Regions from separate parts of the Homo sapiens genome. Here regions 1, 2 and 4 are each linked to region 3. The links come from fine-mapping of genetic effects on gene expression. A gene starts in region 3. Each other region holds a variant in brackets. All regions are shown on one strand. Distances are between the middles of the regions. Region 1 has its middle 7.6 kb from the start of CALHM6. Region 2 overlaps DSE (dermatan sulfate epimerase). Region 3 holds the start of DSE (dermatan sulfate epimerase). Region 4 overlaps DSE (dermatan sulfate epimerase).

Region 1 (5,204 bases), 83 kb before region 3:
AGAGAGAATCCCGTGGAAGATTTATAGACAGAAAAAGGAAAGTGACGTACAGAAAATGGAAGTGAGGTATAGAAACAGCCTGATTGGTTACAGCTTGGCATTTACCTTCTTTGAACACAGTTTGAACAGTTGACCCCCTTTGATTGGCCAAAACTTGTTGACTGGCACAACAGTAGGTTACAGTCTGCTTACATTACAGAGAAACCTTTAGGCTGAACTTAAGATACGTAAGGAGGCTGCTTTAGGATAAATTTGATTTAACAACTTAGAGAAACTAGATATGGCCAAGTCTTTGTTGACATCATCGTTGCTACCATTGTTGTTGTCACCGCCATCATCAATATCATCTGATACACTGAGGCTATTAAAGGTCCTAGTTAGTTTTCCTTCTGTGCTTTTTACGACCTATGTCTATTAGCAGTTTTGGTGAAACAATGTTTTCTCATTGTCTTAGTCTTTCAGTCTGCTATAACAAAATACCTTAGACTAGGTAATTTATAAACAAAAAATTATTTCTCACAGTACTGAAGGCTGAGAAGTCCAAGATCAAGATGCTAGCAGATTTGGTGTCTGCTAAGAGCCTATTCCTCATAGATGGCAACTTTCCTGTGTCTTCACATGGTGGAAGAGACAAGGCACCTCCCTTCAACCTCTTTTATAAGGGCACTAATCCCATTCACAAGAGTGAAGCCCTCATGATTTAATCACCTCTCAACAGGCCTCACCTCTTAATACTATTGTATTGAATACTAAGTTCCAACATAGGATTTTTGTGGGGACACCAACATTAGACCATAGCACCCATCAAATCAAATTGTTATTTCAGAGGTGAGAGAGAGAGTTGGAGAGAGAGACAGAGAGACAGACATAGAAAGAGAGAGAGAGCCACAATATGTAGCTACAAATTTATATATCCACAATATACATCCGGAATATATCCACAAATTTTAACATTCAGAAATATACTCCCTTTGGGATTAGGAGTGTCAGATTTTGTAAATTAACTTGTTAATTTTGGCATCCAGCATTGCATCTTGCACGTGATACCTAAGATATTTGAATCTTAACTTGATTTTACTCTCTTTGGAGGGTCTTGGGGCCAAGATTAATGCTGTATTAGAATCTAGCAGTCACATTCCAAGCAGGGTCATGTCATTAGTCTGCATTCTTATGAGAGCTGCAGAGCACAATGTGTGATAATGTGTGATGGAGCTTTGTTGTCAATGGGCACTTATCGTCACAATCCCAGTTCTCCTGAACTCAAATTTCCTTTACTAATTTATGATATATGATCAAAGATATGAATTTCCAAAGAAAACAATAATAAATAACAAGATTAAAGAATAAGAATGAAGAAAATAAAAATAACAATAAAACAAAATTTTGAGTTCTTCAAATTATAGATGACACTATTATAAAATCTCAGAAATTTAAATGAACTCTGTGGAGAGCATAAACTGTCATGGAAGATCTTCCCAAAAAGAATGCATCACTTGAAACTTGCTACAGTGTCAAGTTGTAGAGTACTATTTAAATAAGTTATGTAGTATTGGTGCATAGAATACAAAGTAGATCCATACCATTGAGGTAGATCTGTATGTGCTGGTATGGATGAAAAGACATGGAAGACATACTAATTGGAAAATAAGCAAGAACATTTCATGCAATCCATTTGTATACAACAGAAAATTTACTTTTCAAGAAAGCAGAAGAATGGAATCATGTATTGAAAAGAACTGTGGCTATTGACAAATATAGCTCAGAACTGTGGCTATTGACAAATACAGCTTGCTGGAATCAAAGAGATAAGAAGCTTACTAAAATTTGGGAGAGATTTACAGTCAAAGGAATCACAAGCCCAAGTAGACCTATGGTCTTCTGACATTACATAAGAAGGACACGCACTAAGAGAATTACACAGTCCCCAAGACGAATATATGCCCATTAGTACATGGCAAAGGAAGATAACAGAAGACCCTCCAGAGAGTGGAATCCTGAAAATCAAGGAACATTTCTGTATACTCAAGGTAGGAACTTTTATGGCTTTTGCCAAGTGGTAATTTAGTAAGCTTCTTATTTCTTTGATTCCAGTAAACAGTATTTGCCAATATCCACCATTCTTTCCAAGACATGGTTCTCAGATATACTCTATCATTTTGCTTTCTTGCCCCATCCTCCGTGTCTCTCTCTCTCTCCCTCTCTGTCTCTCTGTCCCTCTTTCCCTGGTCCTCCTATCTATCCTACCTTCCTCTGTCTCTTCCTCCCTCTCTATCTAGCTCTTCATGTCTCTCTATCTTTATCTCTCTCTTGCCATTACTGGTATCCTGCATATACATGAGTCTATGATTTTCTGTGGAAAAGCCACAACTTTAATTTGATCTTTGCCGTGTGTATTTATCCAATTGAATACCTTAATTTTATCTGCCCTGAAATTCCTTAATCTATTGAAAGGCATTATCATAGGTAGAGACAACATACTTTTAATTTTACCTATCCACAGGTTATTTTAATGGGCTTCATCTTTCAAGGCTTTCTCAATTTCTGACTTAGTATTTGGAGTTTAAAACCTGTTAGAATTTGCAATTTTGCAAGGCCCCAATTTTCTGAAATAGTTCCATTCCTTCTCATATTTGTTAACAAAGCAACCAATTCTTTTCTTGAGTTAAAAAAGCCTTGTCAAAAAAAAAAAAATAGCTAGTAGTGGTAGGCGCGCAGGGCCAGAGATGCTGCAGACCTGCGACCCGGAGCAGTTCGGAGGCGGTGAATAATATCTCATCAAGTCTGCTATAAAAAATGGCCTCCAATAAAACTACATTGTGAAAAATGGGGAAAAAAAACAGAATGGGAAAAGTAAAAAGTTGAAGAGGCAGAGCCTGAAGAATTTGTGGTGGAAAAAGTACTAGATTGA[C/T]GTGTAGTGAATGGGAAAGTGGAATATTTCCTGAAGTGGAAGGGATTTACAGATGCTGACAATACTTGGGAACCTGAAGAAAATTTAGATTGTCCAGAATTGATTGAAGCATTTCTTAGCTCTCAGAAAGCTGGCAAACAAAAAGATGGTAAAAAAGAAAATCTTTATCTGACAGTGAATCTGATGACAGCAAATCAAAGAAGAAAACAGATGCTGCTGACAAACCAAGAGGATTTGCCAGAGGTCTTGATCCTGAAAGAATAATTGGTGCCACAGACAGCAGTGGAGAATTGATGTTTCTCATGAAATGGAAAGATTCAGATGAGGCAGACTTGGTGCTGGCAAAAGAAGCAAGTATGAAGTGTCCTCAAATTGTAATTGCTTTTTATGAAGAGAGACTAACTTGGCATTCTTGTCCAGAAGATGAAGCTCAATAATTGTTCACATTGTTTTTTTATATATATTTATAATATATATAAAATTTGGGTCTTGGATTTTGATTTACTAGTGTGATGAAATAACTACATCCTAATGAAAATCAAGTTTGATATGTTCATTTTGAAAGTAGCGTTGGAAGAGTTGCTGGGGGGTTTTTTGAATCCATAGCACTGGTTACTTTGAACAAACAAAAGCTTTCTATAGTTGCTTCCTCTATCAGAAAAGAACATTTGATACCATGGTATATTATTTCCTCTTCATTAAAGAACAGCTTCTCTAAATGTTGGGGGAAATGTCCGTAGTCATTACTCAATCAAAACTTGTGTTCTCATAAGCCTAAGGACCATTCTAGATTTTTTACATGTTTTTTTTTTGTGTGTGTATCCATAAAATGCATATGTGAATTTTTTGTTTGTTTGTTTTTGAGCATTCACACAAACAAAAAAATCACAGGTAAGCCCATGTTTCTGAGATGCCATTATTCCGAGCAAAATAAGAGATAATCACTTCAAGTTAAATTGAAAATTTTCCTGAAGCCATGCATTTCAAGTGAAATAAGTAATTCTAAATAGGACAATTTAAATTGGATAATTTTAAATCATCTATAATTGCAGTGGTTTATTTGCAAAATTCCTAAAAGGAAAAATTTTATCACTGCCATCACAGCAGTTTTCCTCATCCAGATGAGGAAACTAGACAAATGCTAGTGTGTTTTAACTAGCTAAACAAAACTAAATTAAATGAACATTAAAAAATTTCCCTAGTGTGCCATTCCCTAACAAAATGTTGAAATCCCTGTTACTACATTGACTAAAAGGTAATGATGAATGGAATATGTAAGACTTGGCTCATAGAAACCTGATCAGATGGTTAGAGATGTTGGCAGTTTAGGACCTGCTGCTACAAATGTGTGAACAACCTTTTGTAATCTAACCTATTGACCTGCATGTTTTTTCTTTACCCCAACTCATTCCTTACATGTAGGCTCAATCTTCACTTTGCTTTACTGGTTCAGCAAAAGCCAGGAAGAACAACTTTGTAGTAATCAGAATGTTATTCAACTGTATATTGTTTACTTTATTGTAAATACTGGTGAACAGTGGTTAATAAATAATTTTATATTCCTTTAAAAAAATAGTAGTTGCTAACACACAGTAGACACATTATTTTCCAATCCTTTCCCTTAGAGTCTTATTTTCTTTAGCTACATAATCTTCCTCCAAGTTAATACAGAAGTTGGCTTTACCAACCACCACATAACAAGAATTGTCATCTATCTAGCCTCCATTATCAATTTCTATGCTGTCCACCACTGAACTGCGAAGCCCATGCCACATATTTTAGGGTTTTTAAATTAATAAAGCACCCTGCTTCAAATACCAATATCTGTTCAGAACTAGCCACAAGGTTTCACCGAACTGCAATGGAAAGAGGAAGTATGGTTCTTTCCCATGCCTTAAAGGCAGAGAACCTGACATGGACGAGTACAGGAAGTCTCCACCACATCTTCTATGACCAGTCTTTCTAAACAGTTCCCCATCCACCCCTTCACCTTTCTTAGCTGCATTTTTTCCTTATTACATGTAGGAGTTTTATCTTTCATTTGTTGCTTGTTAATTTTTGTTCGTCTCCTCCACTAGATTATACATTCCAAGAGGGCATGGATAACACCTGACTTAATCCTCTTTCAGTTACACAGGTCTTGGCATAGTGCCTAGGACTTTGTAGGTGTTCAGTACATATTTGTGGGAACAGTGAGTGAATCGATGAATGAATGAATGAGAAGCAGGCTTAGATTTTCTCTTCTCCTACTGCAGAGCCAGCACCATTCCTATTTTATTCAGCTTAGAATGTGAGC
Region 2 (5,199 bases), 65 kb before region 3:
TAGAAACTATGGATTATTTTTCTAGTATTCTATGCTGCTGTTACCTTCTGAGGAGTTGATTGAAAATTTTATGCTTTTAAAAGTTGGGTGCTACTTAAATATCAGAATTGGCTATTGTTTTAAATATTTAAAATATGCTTAAACAACAATTAAGGTTAATAAGCAGAGAAAATACTTCTTTTGATTCAAACACTACTTTATATATTTAATGAATACACGTCCAAATAAAGATCTCTCTTCAAAAATTTTGGAAAATGTTAATGCATTTTGAATATAATGGAACAAAGAAGAAGAATACTAGAGAAAATTCACAATTATGATGTTTATTTAGGAAAATAAACTTGAAGAAGGTTTTCTATTAAAAAAACATAAGAATCATATCCAAATTTTAGACTCTCCATCTTCTTTGGTATGAAAATCAACATTCATAATAGAAAATATTTTCTTTTGAAAGGTTTAGTTGTTATTGGGTCTATAACGGTTTTCCATATAAGGAAAATACAGTATTATCTGTAATCATCTCACTTATTGAACAACCAATGAATGCATGCAAGTAACCAAGCATATGTGTGCAGAGACCAGCATCAAGGAAATATTCATTCATAGATAAATGTTTTCTAATAAAATATATTTTAAGTTTTTAATGATCTTCTGCTATCATTTTTTGCCATGTTATCTGAATAGCCATCCAGATCTGTAGTAAAACATCCTGTTAGTTACATAACTCAAGAAGTACTTCCCCAAGGAAGCTCACACCATCATACCAGGACTTAGCAACATTTATCTTTCAACATGAGTATACCATTAAAATTTTTTTATATTTCTCAGAATTGTATTCTTCAGTCTTTTCCACAATATAGTATATGGAAATTGCTAATAGCATTAAATTAATATTAATAAAACCCAATTCTATCTAAACCTTTTTCTCATAAGAAAAAACATTACTTTAAAAAATAGACTTTTTGTTTCTTCTAAAAGTAGTACTATATGGACTGCTCAATTAGCAATGCCAAATACTTCCAAAAACACCATAGGACCACCAAGCTATTTCTATTGCTTTGATAATTTCTTTTCCTGCTCCAATTTCTCCACGTTCCTGCTTTCTTGTGTCAAAATATCTTCCCTTAATTTGTTAAAATGAATCTGAGGGAAAAAAATCTGATAATCTGGGGTAAAGAAATTTTTTTTTTTGCATAGACTCTTGTGATCACAAAATGACCAGGTAATTTATAGCTTCAGTGCTAACACTGTGATTGGGAACAAGAAGAGTACAACCATAATAAAATACAGCTATCTATGAGAAGAACTGCATAAAGACATCTTTGGCCATGTAGGCTCTGGGCCCTCTGGAAATAAGTCAGTTGCATTGCCAACATGACAAAGAAAATAGCAATGTTCAGAATCAGGAACAACCTGGTATAGGAAGCAGACAGTGATGGGGCCCTGCTGTGTGTAGTTGTCACCATCCGTGCCTGTCCAAACCGGCCTTTAATCAAGCCCCCATTTTTATGTTTCTCGTATGTTACATCTGCAAAATCTAAAAGGTCTTTCATTTCTTCATCTTCATCTATGGGTAGTTCTTTCTGTGCCAAAATCTGAGCTTTCTGTCTAATCTTTTTCTCATTGACTTCAATCTGTGCAAAAATATCAGGGACAGCATCCACAAATTTATAGCGTTTGCCTGCCCTTCGGTTTTTCTTTGACTTGCTTTGCTGCTGCTGTTGCTGTGATATGGCAAAAATCCTGTCAATGGCCTCCTCAGTCTGTCTCTTATCTGAAAATCTCAGCAGGCGTTCAGCAGTCTTCCTAAAGCTAGCTGTGTTCCGGACTCGGGACAGTATCTGCTTCTCCAGCAGCTGAAACACTGGTTTAAAATGCTGCAAGTTCTGTTCCACAATAGCAGCATAGTCCTTCACCTCAGGGACAATGCTGCTCTTGATGGCTGAATTCCGGTCAAACAGAATTTTGTGACGATCAGCAATGACCTGTGCAAAGGCAGACTGTCCTGTGGCCTCACCTGTCCACAGGTATGTGGCGTAGGCATGTTTGCTGGTGGCTATGAACACATCCAGTTGCTGAGAGTCTCCGTGGACAGTGAAGCTCTGAACATCTATAGATGGCCCTATGAAGAGGTAAGCTGCCCTGGTGATGGGACTTCGGAGGTGCATGGTGACATTCACATAGTTTGTCCCATTGTAGGGATAGCCCCGAGGATATGTCACTGAGGCAAAGGTTGCTTTCTCGCTGTAGCCAGTATCGTCCATCCAGTACATTTTATAGAGACCATCTCTCTGCCTGATGAAAGCCCCATGGACACCATCTACCACAGTCTCCTCAAAAGGAACATCCACATTATGGAAGAAGCTCGCTGCTGTCTCCAAGGGACTCTCCTCTCCCAGGTGTATTTGGTCTACAAGGAGAAGCAGCTGTGGATGTAGGAGGATGAGATTCCTCTGAACATTCTTCAGGTTGAGCTGGGGGTTATAAGCTCCCACACCTTCTCCTCGGATGAAAACCACCCCATTTTTCTCCTCTGCTGCAACCACCCTCCCCTGACAACTAGCTGCCAGGTCATGCTTGTATTTAGACCATTTTGATGAGCAGTCTTCTGTGACCTGACCCACCCAGGGAGAAAAGCAGCTCTTTGACACAGCTGGGGAAAACATCAAAACATTGTTGAAGAAGGTGTACTTTGGCCCGTACAGAGCCTCAGTAATGAAAGGCACACCATTGGGAGCAAAAGTAAATGAGTTTTGATCAGGATGTTCATGCCCTGCATTAAAATTTCTCCATCCTTTGATCCAATCTTTGTATTTGTTTCTGTGGACAATGTCATATATTGCACGTCCCCCCAGTTTTCCAGACTTGAAGGAAAGGAAAGATCTATTGATTTCTGCAGGTAGTGCACTTCCATAAGTCACGACACCCCAGTCTTCAAAATAATGCAGTGTAGGGGTGCCAAAGTCTGGAGGAGGAACCGATTTCAAGCTGCCATCATACCTGAAATTAATTTTGAAAAATTAAATGGTTTTCTGATGGCAGTGAAAATAACACATAACATGGTAATGTGGAAGATGCGACA[C/T]ACAAATGCTACCCAGAGCACTGGCAGTGCAGAGTATATTAGGGACAATTCTAAAAATATCCAAGGACAACCAGTATGCACAAAGGGAAACCCTTGGTGACTGGAAGAGGAATATTTCTTTATCATTTGTGATCCTTGGGTTTGGGCCCGAAATGATTTCTGCTCTAATCTCTACATGGACTATCTTCACTTGATGATGTCAGAGTGACCATTCAAACTACTGGGCCTCATGGATTTAAGCACTTCATCCAAATTTCTGGTTGAGGGGCTCCTCTTCTAGAAATGCCATGTTAGAATCTGGACTCTAACAAGCCTTGAGTTGTAATAAAGTATAGTTCTGCAGTAACTGATATTATTGAATGTTTGGTATTGAAAAGAGTTCTCCCTCAAGATTTTTTTCCTTGAAAAAATAAACTGAAATAGAGGAGAACTTCACATATTAGATAAAATGTATCACCAACACCACATCTCAGAATATAAATGGATGAAGTTTCAGCAAACTGTCTTATATTGAGGGATTTATAATTGTGCCTACTACTGACCAGCCAGGTCCAAAGGTTTGGTTTTGTTTTAATCTGCAGATGATGCCATGCTTCTTGGACAATAAATGACTTCTTATTTTCATTTATGATAAATGTTTATTATTAGCACTATGTACTTTTCCCTAAAGTAAATCAATCACCTAGAGTTAATCTTATTGGTGTTTGATATTGACTGTTTCATCTGTTGTTCTAGAGTCTCAGTTTCAAGACATCAGAAATTATATCTCTACTTAGGTCTAGTATAATGTTGGCTTAATTAATGTGATTTAAAAAGTGTAGATGTAAGCTGAATTGGCCATCTTACTCTCAGTTTTTGGTCAGTTTGCATATTGCTATAAAGGCAGATTTTTAAGTTAGACTTAGCATTAATCTGACCTATTAATCCTGTAGTTAGCTTTATAGAACTCTCTTCATTGAATATTTATGAGTAACTTATTTATGGGTTACACTATTAAGTAATTATGTCATACTCCTGAGAGAACTCAAGGATGGTTGCATCTTAATATGTTTAGTTTATCTATGAAAATAATCTTAAATTGTTGGTTAAACTATAGACACCATTTTACTAATATTTTTTCCTCCTTAATTTTTTTGTATTTTGAAAAAAAAGGATAAAGAGAAGCAAACCACAAGAAAGCTTGTTTTGGAGTTGAATGCAAATTTCAACAGCTTGAAAAGACATCAGGGATTAATGATTAATCAGTTCCCTGTAATTTTGATTTTAACTTATTGGATGCCAACAACATATTTGGCAATACTTTAAAAAGGAGACCCAAGCTTCTCTTTCTGGGCTTAAAAGATTAAGGCAAAAAAATTTATACGGTCCTTTTATTATCAAAGTGAAGCTGTCAAATACTGTCAAACACTTTTAAACACTTTTGAAAATTTAGTAACAGCTTTGCTATTAGAAGATTATAATGCTCCATTTACCAAAACAAAATATTTTACTACCTTTTTTTTGGTGTGATTATCAGAATAACCTAGTCTAAATTTTGTGTTTTGTTTTATATGCTTTCAAAAAATGATGTAAAATCAAAACATGCTTATTTATGAAATAGTGCAAGTGTAGGACAGCTCTAATATGAGAACCAAAAACTGAAAACAGTAATTAGATGTTAAACATAAAGAAATGTTTCTAACACTACCTATTAGGTACTATGCTCACTACCTGGGTATACTGCACATGTACCCCTGTATCTAAAAGTTGAAATTTTTTTTTAAAAAAGAAAAGTTTCTAAGAGTTTCAAAAACAGTGATATGAGTTGAATTGAAACTTCATATACTCAGGTGGCATGGAGAAAAGATTTAAAAAGTGTTTTAGTTTTTCTTTTTAAATGCAAAAAAACAAGTGCATAGCATGAATAGTACCCTTGGGTACCATTTCTCTTTAAAGCTAGCCCAATGTGTCATACCAGAGAAATTCTGTGTGCAGAGTGCACCAGCGCTGCCCTTTGGATGGTGTTCCTGGACCTTCCACCACACGGTTCCTTCTGATTTGGTCAGCTAGCCAGTTACCACTGCCATTACGCATGACAAATTTATCAAGGAACACTAATTGGCTTTCTGGACCATAAA
Region 3 (5,176 bases):
ATATTTTATTGTTTAATCGCAAAATGCACTTTCATCAGTGATCTTAAAGCACCTTTTCAGAAATTAAAAAGAGACTATAACGAGGCACTGGGAAGCATCTGCGAAGTTAAGAGCTTCATCTCATGGATGACCACCAGGTCCTCTCAGGGCAGCACTGCGAGATATTGAACCGGACAGCCCATAAAATCTCATTGAAAGGAACTGTATTAGCTTGTTTCTGAACGAATTTCGTAAATACTAAAGCAGATGTACACACAAACATTAGTCACTAAGATGGTCCTGATCTCACATAGCAAACCTAGTTGATGTCTCACCCAGTGCTTTTTCAACAGGTCCCCAAGATCAGGAAGGACAGCCTCAATCTAGCAGTATTGAGAATGGAACCTAATAACCCCATCATGGCAACTGCCTGTACTGTTATCAAAGTATCTCTTGGTCAAAGTTTCTTTTCAGATGGAGTCTTCTTCTGTCGCTCAGGCTGGAGTGCAGTGGCACAATCTCGGCTCACTGCAACCTCCGCTTCCTGGGTTCAAAAGATTCTTCTGCCGCAGCCTCCCAAGTAGCTGGGACTACAGGCGCGCGACACCACGCCCAGCTAATTTATTTTTTGTTTTGTATTTTTAGTAGAGACCGGGTTTCACCATATTGGCCAGGCTGGTCTCGAACTCTTGACCTGGTGATCCACCTGCCTCGGCCTACCAAAGTGCTGGGATTACAGGCGTGAGCCACCGCACCCAGCCCTTTTTTTTTTTTTTAATTCCCCTTCACTTGGTGACTGTACTTTCAGTATTTTTTAAACTGTCAGAATGTACTTTTTAGGCCAGTGTTTTTATTTAACTAAAACTTCATAAAAACGGATACTGACGTCATATACTAGTCAATGAAAAATAACTCTTCCCAAGCTCAAACTTAGGAAGTGCTGCTTATTGATGTTTCTCAGGTTCTACATTAGCAGCTCCAAGAGAGCTAAGGCTGATCTCATATACCTGTGTATGTAACCTAGGTAACCAGCACTATCTTGCACTTTTTGCTGAACCCACACAGACGGGTCACTAGGTGATGGAGACATCAAATTCAATCTGTTATCTTCTCCATTTTTACTAGAACAGACCTTACCTACATACTTCAGAAAAGAACTTATATCTGTATCGTGACCGTCAAAGGAAGAGGTCACAATACAGAAATCTAAGTATTTGCATGAAACAAATACTCAGATAATCCTATATTTTATTTTCTTCCATGCACATTAGGTTTTTTGTGATCCCATTTAGTAATATAGTTAGAATACTCTATACAATATTGTTTATCACTATTTCACATAGAGATTATCATTGAGAATTTTGTTTTGTTTTGTTTTGAGCCTGTCGCCCAGGCTGGAGAGCAGTGGCGCAATCTCGGCTCACTGCAAGCTCCGCCTCCTGGGTTCACGCCATTCTCCTGCCTCAGCCTCCCGAGTAGCTGGGACTACAGGCGCCCGCCACCACGCCCGGCTAATTTTTTGTATTTTTAGTAGAGACGGGGTTTCACCGTGTTAGCCAGGATGGTCTCGATCTCCTGACCTCGTGATCCGCCTGCCTCGGCCTCCCAAAGTACTGGGATTACAGGCGTGAGCCACTGCGTCCGGCCGAGAAATTTTTTAAAAACTTGAGGGAATTACTTAAAGTTTAAATTCTATAATGTGAAAAATACTAAAAATATGTATAAGTGAGATCTTTCATGCATTTAATTAACAGTGCTAAACCATGACTTTCTAAACCATGACCAACGAAAAAATTTTTAAAAAGAACTTTATTACACGAAGATTCCTAGAACTAAAAGCGTCATTGCCTGACCTAAAGAATTTCAGGTAAGTGAGGTTCACCTCCTGATTTTAACCAAAGGCTTCGGTTTCCATCTGAATGCCAGCCGGCTTAAGAGGAGGCTGCTGCTTTAAAGGAGCGATATAAACGAAAAAGTTCTCAGGTCACAAACTTAGCTCAGATTCCAGCCCCGACAGATCTTGAGCCCATGTGGCATCGCTTTCAGAGCTTCCCAGTCTGTGAGTCAAGCCCCCGCCTCCTCCCCTCCCCGGGACTGCCTCGGGGATGAGGTTTACTAACAATTTCTCCGAGTGCCGGCGGAGCCCAGGAGCGCTGGAATCCAGCGTCTGGGAGAGGCTTGGGGAGCTCTTCCTCGGCTTCTGCAGCCGCAAAGTAGGGTTGCCAGCGCCAGGATCTGCACACAAGCCGCCGCCACCTCCCCTGCCCCCAAATGGCTGGGGTACGGAGGGAAAGGAGGACGCGAGGGTGTGCCACCCAACCCCGCAGAGTGAAGCCGAGGCCCCAAGGACCGTCGAGGAAATCGCGGCTGGGCCGGCCAGATCCGACGCACGGAATGCGATCTCCAGGTTCTCATCGTGTTCCCGGCTCGGTGCTCGGCGTTCAAGGGGGTGGGGAGGATCGAAAAGCTGCCCCTCGAGGCTGCTCCGCCGCCGGGGAAGCCCGTGGCTCAGGCTTCACGCGTCAGGCGCTCTCTCGGAGTCCAGCCGAGCCGGGCCCGGGCGCGCAACCCGCGGCGCTCCGCTCTCAGCCGGGGACGTGGCTCTCCGTCTCCCGCCCGCGCCGGGACAGCCCCGAAGGCTACCCGCCCGAAACTCCCGAAGAAAGTTGCGCCGCGCGCCCCAGCTCGTCCCTTGCGCGCCCCTCCACTTACCGCTCCCAGCCGAGGCTTCGTTCTCTCCGGCGTCGCCTCCGCAGCCTCCAGAGCCAGCTCCCGGTCCTCCTCACTCCAGGGCGCCCGGGCTCCCGGCCCCCTCCGAACCGAGCCCTCCGCGCCCCCGCCGCGCCATGCCCCGGGATGCGCTGCTGCAGCCTCGGGCGACGCTACTGAGAGCCGGGCCGGCGGGGGCGGGTAGGTGTGGGCGAAAGGGGCGGAGGGAGGGACGCGGCGGGCGCTGAGGCTCCGCTGGAGGGGGGAGGAAACCGCAACGTCACCAGAGCCAGAGGAGACGAGGATGAGGAGAGGGAAACGGGGACCCCCTCCCCCGGCCGAACCCCGACCGCAGGCCCGCCCCGCTTTCTCCCGCTCCTCCTCTCCCGGGACTCGCCGCTCGCAGCTGTGCTCGGCCTTCCACGCCACCCGGCCCGGACTCCACCCGCACCCCCGCCCGCCAGGCCTCTTTGGCTCTAACTTGTTCTAGTTTCTTAGGACTCAAACGCTTCGGGTTCGAGAATCACACCCAAAGGAAAGGTAACTTTTGGAGGCCCAGGGGGAGGAGCTGATGCTTCCATACTACTCTGCGAGAGGAAAGCGAGGAAGACGTTAAGACTCTTACTACCGGGACTGGTGCCCACTCCAGTCTGCCTCCTCCCGAATAGTTACTGCCTCTTTTCTCTCGAATTCGGTTTTACTCTCTTCTCAAAGAGAAGTTAGTGGGAGGGGGGACTTTGGGGCGGGGGTCACCTATAGAGAAGCAGTTCTCTTTTTTACTGTACCAACAAAATACACTAAATCCAAGCGCACCGAACCCTGCAAACGGAACAGATTTTAATCACAGAAGGTCAGGAGCAAAGCATTTAATGTAGGCAGCTCACAAACAGAAATTTATCTTACGCGGTGGGGGGGTGTGTGTGTGTGAGAGAGAGAGATCCCTCATGCACCCAAGTTCAGGTGGAGCATTTGCAACCTTGGTAGTCACAGCCTCCTGGAGAAGAGTCCTCCTGTTTTCCAAAAATCAGCCACTGCTCAAACACGCTCAGCCAGGTCCAACCAGGCCCCAAGGAGATGTGAGGTAGGATCAGGGCCATCACCTCAGGAATACTTTGCCCCTTCCACCTCCACCCAGTGTGTGCAAGTAACCTACCAGACCTAGATTGTACAGAAGTGAAAGATTTGTAGGATACTTACCCATTCATTAGAATGAGAGATATTTTACTGGGAGCAGTGCTTTTCTCCATGAGTTCTGAAGGGCACCTCCATCCAATTCCTCTATCCTCAGAGGTTCTCACTTCTATTTGGCCAAATAAGGAAAAAATGTGGATGTCTCAGTTTATGCTTCTCTTTTTCAGAAATTGCATTTAAGAGGAACTCCTTACAAACAGGTCAAGAGGAAGTGGTACTATTAAATTTTTTAAATGTTCACTCAGGTGAACCACTAATTTGCATAAACTTCTTGATGCTTTAGGGAAGGCCTGTCGAGGAGAGAAGAGGGCTCTGGAAACTGGAACTAATCTTTGGTTCAAATCCAAACTTTGCTTTTACTACTGTGGGCCTTGGAAAACTAACATCAGAACCTCAGTTTCCTCATCTATAGTGTAACAATATAATACCTTGTTTGAACAGTTATGGAGAGGATATAATAAAAATAGCTAATGTTTATTGAGAGTTTACTACACCATATCAGACGGTCACTGTGCTAAGAGATTTACATATACTAATTCAATTATTAGAATAAATTGTGAAAGTGTCTAGCTGTATTATGTAATCCGTAAGTGTTAATTTCCATTTATCTTCTCAAATTTGAAAGAGACTTTAGAAAAAACATCTGGTTTAATTTACGTAACCTCTCAGCAAGTAGTAGTCTAGTTCAGTGATTCTCCAACCTAGAACTTTAGAATCAGCAGGGGAGCTATAATAAATTCTTTCCAATGGGGACCCCCACGCAAGAACAACAAATCAGAATCTCTGAGGTTAGGGTCTAAGCATCAGCATCTGCATTTTAAAATCTCTTCCTAGATGATCACAATGTACAACCAGGATTGAGAATTCTTCAAAGGAGGTAGTACTGACTGTCATTTGCTCCCCTTTACCCTCACACCCCCCACAATTTTGCTTTTGAGTGACCTGCGAATTGGCCTCTGGATGACATTCACTTTGTGCAAAGCCCCCCCCGTCCCCCCGCCCCCGCCCACCCCATTACAGTAAGTCTCAACAGATCTGCTATTCTGCTCTCTGGAATCTACAGGATACACCTAGCCTTGATTCCACAGGAGAATACTTCAATTTACCTGGGTACATATTAACTCCATCAGCTTTTCTTCATCCATTAGGAAAGCTCTCAGGAGGAGATTTACTTTGCCAACATCTCTCTCAAACCCTGATGCCAAGAATTGAATTCAAGGTTTCACCCAAGTGACAAACTAGAAAGATGTTTAATGGCTTTGTTGTAATTACTGTATTTCCCTAAGTATATCCTTGG
Region 4 (5,000 bases), 45 kb before region 3:
TGAGCCTGCACACCTAATGTACTACTCTAAGGTAGAGTTGGTCCAGGGGATGGTGGTTCTGGTTTGCATCTTCAGAACCTTGGGCCCCTTAAGGTAGTAACAAACACTCTCTTCGTGATCAAACCCTAGCCAGGCTCCTCTGTGCCTTCTTGGCTAGGCCTCAACCTCATTCCATGAAGAGTAAACACTAACAAGTTTCCAATACCTCAAGGTCATATCCCTGAGATGACCCTCTCCCTGTTGAAAGTGTCTGCCTAAGAAACTCAAGGCTTCCAGAAAAATTTTGTTTGTTCCTGTCAACATTTGAGGATAGGGTCTCTGTCTTTCAGTCTCTGTGGGAGGATAGAATTCTACCCTCGATAATTGCCACTTAGCAGATGTGTGATTAGCTGGCCTAATCACATGTACATTGACTACCCTTTGTAATTTTTCTCTTTCCTGGCTCTACTAAGCCCCTGCTTGCCCTCCTCCCTTTAAAATGCCTATTCACCTCTGTACAAATTGACGTTCAGTTCAGTTTATGCTGAACTCTTTTCCTACTGAAATACTTACTACTGATTAAAACTTATCCTTGCCACTTTAGTGTCCGGTATTGTTTACCTTTGACACTGGCCAGGGCTAGAGTACACAGAAATGGACAATGAGCTTTCCTTTTTCAATATCTACTTTGGGAACAAAACTACTTGCCCTTTCTGGAAACAATTGCTAGAAGGATGAACGGTATGACAGAATGGGAACTCATTGTATATTAAGACTTTTTCAGGGAAAATAACTTATTAGCTCTGAAATGTAAAAAACTATTTCCTCTTACAATCTATATTTCTATATTAATTAAATCACTGGATTTAATATAGCAGTACATTACCACTTAATTTCATTTTAATGCTGTGAATTCAATATCCCAAATATTAAATTCTAAAATATATAAAATTTAAGTCAACTTGGCCCCACTCAAGCAGAATACTGAGGAGTCAATTATGCCAAAGCAGACATTAAAAGAAACACATTTTACTCAAATGAAAAGTATTCTAGATGATTTGTAAATAAAAAGAATCGAAGTGTCGGAATATACCAAGTTAATTAAAATAAAATGTAGAGTAGTACTGTTAAATGGGAAAAGGCATTTCCATGTCATTATCTCAATGTTTACTTCCATGACATGAAGTGTTATTACCCAAATATCCAAGCATGCCACCCAAACATAATCTATTTAAATGGAATCAAACAACATTTATAATTGTAATCCCTTTTAACTGAGTAAGTATACTTTGCCCTAATATTCAACCTACAAAAGGTGAGAGGAAGAAACATGATAAGTAAAAATTATTCAAATTTAGGAACAAGACCTCTATTTTGGTAGAATGGCATAGCTTAAAGACTACGGTTAAAAATACACTTACATATCAAATTCTAATGACAAATTCTTAAAGAATCTATTATAATGGAGAAATTTTAAAACCTGGAAAGGCAATAGGAGGGAATAACCAGGTCTGCCTATATTGTTCATGAAAATTATAATTTAATGATATTTACCCATTTTAAAAAGGAGCTTGATATTTTAAATGCCTAACATGTTTTACAACTGTATGTGTAAAATATGTTTCAAAAAGTTCAGCTGGACAACTTTTTGATGTTATCACTCAGTCAATGTCTATGCAAGCATCCAGTGATCATGTGAGAAGCCATACAGACAACTGCCAGTTAGCAATTGTCAGTAGTCAGTATGATTTTAAGAAAAAAAAAAATAAACATGCAAGAATAGCCAGGATGATGGACAGTGGCCAGTCCTGTCAGAGAAGAAAATATAATATATAAATGTTGGCTTGGGCAAGAACTGAGCAGTTATAATAACTGTATGTAGTTGACACATTTATTTATCTTATAAAAATTTAATATAAATTTTATAACACACAACATCAAAAATATACCATCTATTTTAAATATAACATGACTCCGGAGGACAAGAAGTCTATAATGAAGAATAAAAATCTAAAGATTCTGAACACCAAGTATTTCCCAATGAAAAAGATTTAATCAAACTATCAACCTTATAGTGCAGTCAAAAAGCTACACACACACACACACACACACACACACACACACACACACACACACAGTGGCAATTAGCTGTTTAGAACCTGTGACAGGCAAAATAACAGTCCCCCAAGAA[A/T]CTGTGCATACATTACCTTCCACTGGGGCAAAGGGACTTTGTAGATATGATTTAAAACCTTGTGATGGGAGATTATTCTAGATTACCCAGGTGGTCCCAATCTAGTCACACGGGTCCTTAAAAGCAAAGAACCTTTCTTGGCTGTAGTCGGAGAGAGATGTGACCATGGAGGAAGAATCAAAGAGATGCAAGGTTGCTAGCTTTGAAGGTGGAGGCAGGGAGCTACAAGCAAAGGAATATATGTGAACTCCAAAAGCTAGAAAAAGGCAAAGAAAAGTATTCTGCCCTAGAGCTTCCAGAATAAAATGTAGCCCTGCTAACACCTTGATTTTAGCCCTGTGTTACACTTCTACAAAACTGTAAGATCACTCTGTGCTGTTTTAGGCCACTGAGTATGTGGTAATTTGTTACAGCATTTGTATGCATTTTTAGGCAGTCAAGGACTACCAGAGATTTGTGGAAATCCCATAATAGGACAAAAGAGACCCAAATGAACAAACTCATTAATGCAGCTTGGGAGAAATTAAACCATGCAGGCAGAAAGAAATTTCAAGACAAAAGAAGCTCTTGAAATGGAAAACAAAATAGCAGGAAGGTAAGTGCAATAAAAGGGCTGGGGAGAAAAGTTGAAGAAACCTTGAAAATGCAAAAAAAGTAAGAAAATAAAATAGAAAACAGCAGAGGAAAAAAAAAAAAGAGGACTGGCCCAAGAGGTTAAACATGTGAAAAAGAAGAGAGGAAAAAAAAAAGAAAGAAAAAAGAAAAAAGGGGGAAGAAAAGGAGATCCAAATATATCAAGGAAAATTGCTAGAACTAAAGGGGATAAGTTTCCATATTGAAAGAATCCATGAAGTGCACAGTACACAGACTCATCTCAAAACAAGATACATCATCCCGTAATTTCAAAACACTAGTAACATAAAAAAGATCCTATATGCTTCAGAGTGGAATATCAGGTTTCATTCAAAGCATCAGGAATAGTGGGGTCAGACATCTCAACAGCAACACTAGACACTAGTATACAATAAAACAATGACTCCAAAACTCAGAGAGACAATTTCCAGACTATAATTTCATATCCAGCCAAGCTACCCTTTAAACTTGAGGGAAGAAAAAACATATACAGACATCCAAGGTCTCAAAATTTACCTCTCATAAATGCTTTCTCTGGAAGCCAGTGGAAAATATCTCCACCTAAATTAGGATGTATATCAAAAAGAAGACATGGCACAAGGAATCCAATTCAAGAGAAAAAGGAACAAAGATGGCTGTACAGCAGACCTGGCTGCAAGCAATCCACATCCTAGCATGTCAAAAAGATGCAGCATTACTTCTTCAAAAAGATGAATTATTTTTAAAAAATGTCTTATTAAGAATGTCTTGTTTGAATAGATAGAAAACTTACACAAGAGTGAGAGTCTGGCTGGTCACTAGAGATAACCATATAAAAAACTTACCAAATAAAACAAAAAGCTATTATGAATCCAAGAGAAAACAAAGAGTTGTACACACATTGAAAAGTCATTACAGTATACAATATAGTTCAGTTGTCAATAACTTTTGCCTTGTTAAAATATGCAAACAGGCTGGGCGTGGTGGCTCACACCTGTAATCCCAGCACTTTGGGAGGCCGAGGCAGGCGGATCACCTGAGGTCGGGAGTTCGAGACCAGCCTGACCAACATGCAGAAACCCCATCTCTACTAAAAATACAACATTAGCTGGGCGTGGTGGCACATGCCTGTAATCCCAGCTACTAGGGAGGCTGAGGCAGGAGAATCGCTTGAACCCAGGAGGTGGAGGTTGCGGTGAGCTGAGATCGGGCCATTGCACTCCATCCTGGGCAACAAGAGCGAAACTCCACCTAAAAAAAAAAATGAGCAAACACTTGATATTCCACTCATTAAAATTATGGCATATTTATAAAATAAAACAGATCTATATTGTAATGAAATAACTTATCTGTGTCAGAGTGAGAGAGAGATGATGCATTTGCAAGCCAAGAACACCAAAGATTGCCTACAACCACCAGAAGCTAGGAGAGCAGCTTAGGATGGTCTCTCCTTCAGAGAGCCTCCAGAAGGAATGAAGCCTATTGATATCTTGATTTCAGACTTCTAGCTTCCAGAACTGAGAGAGAATAAATTTCTGTTGGTTTAAGCCACCTAGTCTATGGTATTTTGTTACAGCAGCCCTAGCAACAAATACACCGACACTAAAAAACCTGACCGGCCATTGCTGCCACCTCGTACACTCCCCATCATCTTCCTGTCGCTGCCTGAACACTCAGTTACTCCCATTTACTTGAAAGAGCACTTGCCTAATATTCTGAGAACACGGCAGGCAAAAGGGCAAAGAATTACTTGAGGAATGAAGTTTCAAAATAATGAGGGACACTTTTTCACAATGGGAAAAACCGTAGTCAAATCACCAATTTTTGCTGCCCTCATGGTGGGAAAACATCAAATCCAAAGTGAGGTAGGCCTGGAGGAGCTAGCATACGTGAAATGATATTTTGCTGTCTCTTAGAGTACGGTTAATATATTTACCCACTATTTCTGCTTTTAATGTTTTATGAATAATTTTCTTTGATAATTTGATTTTTAAAGGTTTTGCTGAAATTATGCAGAGCTTCATAAAATCCAGAGGCCTTTTTAAAACAGTGAATGAACTGTGGCTGATTTTACTCTGGGTGCAGTAGGAAATAATGCTCTGCACAGTTTATTCCATTCAGCCCCGGAAACCTGACATATAATCATTAATCACAGGCCTGTACTGTTTCTTAATGAAATAAAGATGCTTCCCAATACATTTTGAGAATAAGCATTCTA

The links. PIP is the estimated chance that this variant, and not a neighbour inherited with it, causes the effect. A credible set is the group of variants that fine-mapping cannot tell apart.
Region 1: its variant is the best candidate, but not a certain one, in a credible set for the expression of DSE in whole blood (INTERVAL, PIP 0.74).
Region 2: its variant is the best candidate, but not a certain one, in a credible set for the expression of DSE in whole blood (INTERVAL, PIP 0.84).
Region 4: its variant is the best candidate, but not a certain one, in a credible set for the expression of DSE in whole blood (INTERVAL, PIP 0.72).

The regions. Positions count from the first base shown.
Region 1 is chr6:116,451,155-116,456,358 of GRCh38, reverse strand. It overlaps the pseudogene CBX3P9. Among named protein-coding and RNA genes, the nearest start is that of CALHM6, 7.6 kb to the left of the region's middle. The variant C/T (reference allele first, on the strand shown) is at 2,909.
Region 2 is chr6:116,433,388-116,438,586 of GRCh38, reverse strand. DSE (dermatan sulfate epimerase) reads right to left here. Exons shown (of 6, transcript NM_013352.4): 5 at 5,037-5,199; 6 at 1-3,000. The coding sequence ends at 1,242. Among named protein-coding and RNA genes, the nearest start is that of CALHM6, 25 kb to the left of the region's middle. The variant C/T (reference allele first, on the strand shown) is at 3,083.
Region 3 is chr6:116,368,637-116,373,812 of GRCh38, reverse strand. DSE (dermatan sulfate epimerase) reads right to left here and starts at 2,866. Exons shown (of 6, transcript NM_013352.4): 1 at 2,692-2,866. LOC100287467 (a long non-coding RNA gene) reads left to right here and starts at 2,094. Exons shown (of 1, transcript NR_148944.1): 1 at 2,094-5,176. RefSeq lists enhancers at 1,995-2,495, 4,010-4,059 and silencers at 2,493-2,787, 2,550-3,079.
Region 4 is chr6:116,413,466-116,418,465 of GRCh38, reverse strand. All of the region lies in intron 2 of DSE (dermatan sulfate epimerase), which reads right to left. Among named protein-coding and RNA genes, the nearest start is that of DSE, 45 kb to the right of the region's middle. The variant A/T (reference allele first, on the strand shown) is at 2,171.